2 linked regions of the Homo sapiens genome follow. The protein of the gene in region 1 purifies or fractionates together with the protein of each later gene. This does not show direct contact. Each region holds a gene or a part of one and is shown in the gene's direction. Other genes may lie near its edges.

Region 1 (3,914 bases):
TGAAAACCACTATCCCTCTCTCAACCCAGTATTGGGTTTGGATCCTAGAAAATGCCAAAAATAGACAAAAATGTTTCCAGTTCTTTTTTTCTGACCTAGATAATGTAAAACCAAAGATTCATTCCTGGAAAAGTGCTAGGGTATTTTTGGGGATTTAAAATCAAGCTCAGTTAATGTGGTCTATAGGGCAGTCACTAAGATTGGTCCATGCTAAAACATGTCTTTGTCAACAATTGTAGGGCCAACACACATACTTTCAATACTCTTTCTTGGCGAGAAGTATAGGAACTATGAGTAATCAGAAATAGAAGAGCAAAAGGAAAAGTGAAAAGATGAGAAGAGTCCATGAGAAAAGAGAGGCAAATTACAGGGAAGGAGAAAATCGAGGTTTTTGAATGGGAAATACAGTGGACATGAGAGGATCTGAGAAACAGACATATTTCCTGTCAGTAGAGGCCGAAGGTAAACAAGGATGTCGTGTAACAGAAAGAAATGGGAAGGCCAAGTTAAAGAAAAGAATGAGAGAAGGCTTGGAACTAAAACAGGTAAAGAGATAATGACAGTGAAAACTATCTCAGGCATGTCAACAGGACTGATAAGGAACAGTGAGGGACATCCAGGATCTCACATCAAAGACAGAAGGGTCAACATGTGGAGAGAGAAAAAGGAAGAGGGATCCCAGCTGTTAGGGGGAAAAGGTGCTGTTAAAGACAGCTCTAGTCTGCATTTTGAACCTTACATTCTGAAAGGAAGCACTTCACCAAGCCAATACAAAACACTGTACAAATCTCTGCTGTTCACAAATTTTAGAGTAAATAAAAGCAAACTAATGCTACACATCAAATACCTTAACTGGCGAGACATAATTCCTAGTTCATTTTAGCCGCCGGGGGCAAGAAGCTATCAAAGTGATTTTTTTTTTCCAGCACCTTAATGTGAGACAAGTATGAAGGAAAGACAAGTATGAAAGAAAAAGTCCCAAACCAATATTGCCCAGTAGTAATTTTCAGAGTGATTTCTCTTTTCAGTATAGACTTGGATGTATTCGGACCCCTTGGAGGGGGCGCCGGAGAAGCGGCCCAGAAAGTATTTCTATATTAAGAAAAATTTAGTTTGGATGCAAAGTGAGTTTTGCGGACCTCAATACAGCCTCGAGAAATCTGAAGTACTCCTCTACAGCGTTAATAAAGAAAGATAACTCAGATTGCCTGTTAACTTGCAGCTTCTCCTCCTCCCCCATCGGCTTCAGCCTGAACTCATCAAAGCACCGGAGGACAGGAACGGACCTTCTATCGCTTTTGTTTCCTGCGTGGCGGAGACTTAGAGGAACGGCCGGTCGCCTACCTGCCTTCCACTTCCCCGGCCGCAGAGCAGTTCGCTGCCGGCTCGGTTCGCCGCCAACCTCACCTACCGGCTGGCTCTCCGGCCTGACTCTTCTGGGATGGGTGGCAGGGGGTGGGGGAGACCTCAGGGGGCGGAGGGACACGAGGAGGCGGGCCTGACCCTTCCCCCAGAGGCAGGGAGGAGGTGCCGCCAGGGCGCAGGTGAAACCGACTCGGCCCTATCCCGGGAACTTTCGCTGTGAGGACTCGTTGCGAGAGGCTAGAGTCGCGCAGGGGCGGCCTCGGAGCCGCCCTCTCTCACGCAGACTGCCGCGGGGACTCAGCCTTGGGGCCACCCGGAGGGGACCCACGGCCCTCCTGGCGCGCTCACGGGCTGCGGGCAGCGCTGGCCTCCGCGGCTGATGGGGGCGGCTAGTGCCGCCCCGGGCGCAGGTGACACTCGCCCGGCCAGGGTTTCCTCTGGCTGGGGAGAGCCCCGGGAGGGCGAGACTCAGACACCTCTGGGGCGGAGGACAAGGCAGCGATGGCCCGAGAGCTGAGCCAGGAGGCACTACTGGACTTTCTGTGCCAGGCTGGGGGCCGCGTGACCAACGCTGCCTTGCTGAGCCACTTCAAGAGCTTTCTCCGAGACCCCGACGCGTCCCCCAGCCAGCACCAGCACCGCCGCGAGCTCTTCAAGGGCTTCGTCAACTCGGTCGCCGCAGTGCGCCAGGACCCCGACGGCACCAAGTACGTGGTGCTCAAGAGGAGATACAGGGACCTTTTGGGGGAGGAGGGGCTGCAGCGACCCCGCGAGCCGCCCGCGGCCGCCCCCAGTGCAGGGGGAGCTGCGCCCTGCTCCCCGCGAGGCGCGCGCCGGGGGGAGCCGCCCCAGCAGCAGCCCAGGCGGCGGCGGCGCGAGAAGGAGCCGGAGGAGGAGCCAGCAGGTGCAGCAGCCAGAGCCGCCGACGCAGCTTGCAATGGACTCCCGGGCAGCGACTCCCGTAGGGCGCCCGGGAAGGGCGGCGGATCGAAGGGCAGTCCCGGACAGAGGCCGCCGGTGCCCGCAGCTGCAGCGGCAGGGGCCCAGGCGAGAGCGAGCTGCGCGGCGGCGAAGACGCAGGGCCGCTGCTGCTGGGAATGCCTCCAGAACAACCTGGCTGTACTGCCGGGAGAGCTCGGCGCACTCCCGCACTCGGCCACCGCGGAGGAGAAGCCGGCACGGGCTCTGCCTGCCCAGGATGACCGCGGGGCTTCCAGGGAGCGGGAAGAAGGCGCGCTAGCTGAGCCGGCGCCTGTGCCTGCAGTGGCTCACTCGCCTCCCGCCACCGTCGAGGCTGCGACAAGCAGGGCTTCCCCGCCTGCTCTCCTGCCCGGCCCCGCTCCCCGCGGAGACCGGCCGGAGCTGCTGACCCCCAGCTCCCTGCATTATTCGACCCTGCAGCAGCAGCAGCAGCGCACTCGAGAGTGGGTGGCCAGGCACCCGCAGGTGCCCGAGGCCCGTGATCAGGGCCCTATCCGCGCCTGGTCGGTGCTGCCAGACAACTTCCTCCAGCTGCCCTTGGAACCCGGCTCCACGGAGCCTAATTCAGAGCCGCCAGACCCCTGTCTTTCCTCGCACTCTCTCTTTCCTGTTGTTCCGGATGAGTCCTGGGAATCCTGGGCGGGGAACCCTTCATTGACTGTCTTTCGCAGCATTCGTTGTCAGCTGTCCCTCCAAGATCTGGATGACTTTGTGGACCAGGAGAGTGATGGCAGTGAGGAGAGCAGCAGTGGGCCCAAAGACTCCCCGGGGGCTTCTGAAGAGGGGCTGCAGGTTGTCTTGGGAACCCCAGATAGGGGGAAGCTCAGGAATCCAGCTGGGGGCCTTTCTGTATCTCGGAAGGAGGGCAGCCCCAGCCGGAGCCCTCAGGGTCTCAGAAACAGAGGGGATGGTCACATCTCTCAGCAGGTCCCTGCAGGGGCTAATGGCCTTGCAGGCCACCCCCTGAAGCCTTTGCCTTGGCCAGTTCCTAAGTTAAGGAGGTCCCTCAGGAGGAGCTCTCTGGCAGGGAGAGCCAAATTGTCCTCCTCTGATGAGGAGTACCTCGATGAGGGCTTGCTGAAAAGAAGTCGGCGCCCACCTCGATCCAGGAAGCCCTCCAAGGCAGGAACGGCACCCAGCCCAAGGGTTGATGCAGGTTTATCACTAAAACTTGCAGAGGTTAAGGCTGTTGTGGCCGAGCGGGGTTGGCGACACAGCCTGTGGGTCCCCAGTGGGGAGGGGTCTGCAGCCTTGGCCCCCCACAGAACTTCTGAGCACAAATCATCCCTGGTTCCACTAGATGCCAGGGAGCATGAGTGGATTGTGAAGCTTGCCAGTGGCTCCTGGATTCAGGTGTGGACTTTGTTCTGGGAGGACCCTCAACTGGCCTTGCACAAAGACTTTTTGACTGGGTACACTGCGTTGCACTGGATAGCCAAACATGGTGACCTCAGGGCCCTTCAGGACTTGGTGTCTGGAGCAAAGAAGGCAGGGATTGTCCTTGATGTAAACGTGAGGTCCAGTTGTGGATATACCCCGCTGCACCTTGCAGCCATTCACGGCCACCA
Region 2 (3,814 bases), on another chromosome or scaffold:
TTATATTTGCAATGAGTATATTTCCAGATGAGGTTACATTTTGAGGTACTGGGGGTTGGGACTTCAACACTGGAATTTAAGAGGACACCATTCAACCCATAACAACCCGTAAACTTGTCCCCCAGTTAGATGCTTTCGTCTTTCAGCCTCCTTTCTTTGTTCTTGGTCCTACCAGTTTGGAATCAAGACCATGTTGGAGACAGAAGAAGGAATCCTACTGCTGGTCAGAGCCATGGATCCTGCTGTTCCCAACATGATGATTGATGCAGCTAAGCTGCTTTCTGCTCTTTGTATTCTACCGCAGCCAGAGGACATGTATGTGACTGGAATAATTTTTCTTCTCCATTTTCAATTTTATCATTTTCTCTTAGTTCAGAGGACAATTGAGTTGGTTGGGTGTCCTCTCGGTCATAAATACTAGGTAAGATTGTGTTTCTTCCCAGAAGTGAACACTAAGCATCTTAAAATTTAAGAACAATTCCTAAGTGATGGGTGCTATCCTGAATGTTCCACTGGTCATCAGAGGTATAGCAAAATGTCTCCTATATCTCCATTAATATCTGTATTGTCTAGGATGAGGGTTTCTTTTTACTATTCTTTTTTTTTTTAATTCAGAAGTGGCACAATGTTATTTTTAAAACTCAAACGATATAGAAGTATATAAAGTAAAATTTAACTGCCTCATCCCTTTGCCAAATCCTATTCTGCAAAGAGAATGACTGTTAATGGCATGGTATAGTCTCATAGAACGTTTCCTAAGCATAGACAAACATATTGCGTTCCCTTGATTCTAGACATCTGCCACCGCAAAAGATAGTATCTTAAGAGCTGAGGAATGACACTTATGCCTATAAAACTAACTGCATATATAGGATAGATTTTTATTATTGAAGAGGGATTTGGTTTAACCAAAGCTAAATCATTCTTTTCAACCTGTTTCTTTTTAATAGTAGATCTTGGACATTTCTTCTATGTCGGTACTTACAGATCTACCTTATTATCTTTAGTAGCTATTTAGTATTCCATATACATGTATGTATGGCCTATAATTTATTTAACAATTCCCCTGTTGCTGGACTTACAGATTTTTTTTTTTTCCTTTTTTTTTTTTGAGACGGAGGCTCGCTCTGTTCCCCAGGCTGGAGTGCAGTGGCGCGATCTCGGCCCACTGCAAACTCCTCCTCCCAGGTTCAAGCGATTCTCCTTCCTCAGCCTCCCGAGTAGCTGGGACTACAGGAGTCCGCCACCACGCCTGGCTAATTTTTGTATTTTTAGTAGAGATGGGGTTTCTCCCTATTGGCCAGGCTGGTCTCGAACTCCTGACCTTGTGATCCGCCCGCCTCGGCCTCCCAAAGTGCTAGGATTACAAGCGTGAGCCACTGCGCCCAGCCAACTTACAGATATTTTTTAAAGCAGATTTCACTATCTGTTCTAGGTGATCATTTTTACAAATGATACTGCAGTGAACATCCTTGTGCATATCTTCTTTCACATTTATGCCCATATGTTGGATACATTTCTAGAAGTAGACTATATGTTACATGCATGAGAAATTGATTAGTACTGTTAAATGCCCCTCCAAAAGTTGTATCAATTTATACTTCATTGAATAGGGGACTTGATTTGGTATTTATGGACAGGAGCCTAGGGATGGATTGTAGGGAATGCATTTCCCTGAAGAGATGGTCCTTAGCTTTCAGCAGTTTCTGGAAACTGAGTGGTGAGAATAATAATGTGAGAAATCCGGAACACTGATAATGTCCTGTTTCCTAATCGGTCTGTGCCCCTGTGTAATTTACTCATTATACGTGTCCGTGTCACAGTACCTGGAAAGTTCTCTCCGTTTCCTTTCTCTTGGGCAGGAATGAAAGGGTTTTGGAGGCAATGACAGAAAGAGCTGAGATGGATGAAGTGGAACGTTTCCAGCCGCTGCTGGATGGATTAAAAAGTGGAACCACTATTGCACTGAAGGCATGTATATCCCCTGAAACTGGGCCCAAGAATAGAATTCAAGATGGACAGACTTAAATTCATTTGACCTTTTAATAAAATACATGGAGTGCCTCCCAACTATATATTTTACATTTCAGAATCTGTTATGAAGGGAAAATGATTAACCTTCTTTCTAAGAAGGTAAAGAATGAACTGTTTTCCTCATTATGAGATGGAAAAAGGCATGATATCTATTTACAATCTAGGAAAACCAAGACCTACAATAACATATACTCTCAAATCCTTGAAACCATTTAGAGTTTAGGCTCTCCGGATCTGTACTCAAACCAGGTCTCATTGCTATAGTAGAAAAGTCATCTTTAGAGTTTTTGTATTGTATCTTTCAGGTTGTATTGGGGACCTAAGAATGCATGTAAAGAAAATGGATTCTTGATCTCCAGGAGTTAGCATTGACATAGCTGCTGAATTTTCTTATTTTAGGTTGGATGCCTACAGCTGATCAATGCTCTCATCACACCAGCGGAGGAACTTGACTTCCGAGTTCACATCAGAAGTGAACTGATGCGTTTGGGGCTACATCAGGTGTTGCAGGTAAGATATTACACTTCATTAGAAAGGCTAGACTGGTTCCTTCTTGCTCTACAGCCCCAATAATCCCGGGGATAATTCTGGTTTTCAATTAAAAACCAGGTTGAAAAGCTTAGGTTTCTAACCACAGAGGATACTTTTGGGTTCCCTGACTTCTACTTTTGTTGTTGACAGGACCTTCGAGAGATTGAAAATGAAGATATGAGAGTGCAACTAAATGTGTTTGATGAACAAGGGGAAGAGGATTCCTATGACCTGAAGGGACGGCTGGATGACATTCGCATGGAGATGGAATATCCTTTTGCTGACTAGGTTCAAGGCAGATGAGACATTCATTGTATTTAGTTCCCTGATCCCTGTGTGGAATGGTTTGGGAGATGATGACTCAGAACAGAGCATCAGGCTTATGTGTCTTCTCATTAAATAAGGCAGGTGTATTTTTATTGCGCTGGCTTTACTTAGCTTATCATAGATCAGGGAAGTCAGTAAAGGTGATCTGAGGGTTGTTGAGCATGGAAGCCATCAAAATCAGTGTAAACTTCCTAGAATGTGATAGCTTAGCTTACTAAGATGTAGAACTGGCTTTTAGAGATGTTTGGACTGACAGAGGGAGTAATTTAGTTACCTGTTAATATTTTCAGTAAGTGACTTTGAGGCAGTTACCTCTTATTTTCTGTCTACTGCCTGATCTTCAAGCCAAGTACTTACTAGGAATCCTCTGTGTGTATAGTACCACCCAATTCACTGGTCCCTTAAAGGACGTTTTAGAAAGCTTAAAGTTTCTGGTGATGTTTACAGGAAGAACAGCCAGTAGAATGGAAGTGGTGTCTTGCTACTTTTCCCTAGCTTTTTCAAGAGTTAAATAAGCCACCTGTCAAACATAATTTCTGCATATTTGCTTTCCTTAGCCTATTTCCCTTTTCCACTGACTTTAATGAAGTCTTTCAGATTCTCTTAAACACAGTGAAGGATTCAAAGGCAGAGCCACACTTCCTTTCCATCCTGCAGCACTTACTCTTGGTCCGAAATGACTATGAGGCCAGGTAAGATGCTGTGCTTATGAGAAGTTTTGAATTTGAGCCTAAGTGGAGAGAGTGAATTCCTTAAATTCAAAGATTGTTCTGTAAAAGGAAAATGTAAAGACAAAGACCCAAGATTAGGGTTCATTAGTCACCGATATAAAGGAAGTTGTCTTATTTCTTTAATCCAACTCAAAGGCATCCCTATGGCAGAGGTCAGAGTGTATAAGGTGAAATGCCGTTCTGTTTTTGGA

Evidence for each region.
Region 2: the proteins of SOWAHB (region 1) and DIAPH1 purify together in Homo sapiens (affinity purification with mass spectrometry; one large-scale study listed by BioGRID and IntAct). This does not show direct contact.

What each region holds. Positions count from the first base shown.
Region 1 is NC_000004.12:76,895,802-76,899,715, reverse strand, and holds the start of SOWAHB (ankyrin repeat domain-containing protein SOWAHB), read left to right. Parts: upstream 1-1,571; 5' UTR 1,572-1,866; coding exon 1,867-3,914.
Region 2 is NC_000005.10:141,577,245-141,581,058, reverse strand, and holds part of DIAPH1 (protein diaphanous homolog 1), read left to right. Parts: intron 1-175; coding exon 176-315; intron 316-1,862; coding exon 1,863-1,971; intron 1,972-2,433; coding exon 2,434-2,544; intron 2,545-2,715; coding exon 2,716-2,834; intron 2,835-3,467; coding exon 3,468-3,584; intron 3,585-3,814. UniProt on the Homo sapiens protein: Actin nucleation and elongation factor required for the assembly of F-actin structures, such as actin cables and stress fibers. Binds to the barbed end of the actin filament and slows down actin polymerization and depolymerization.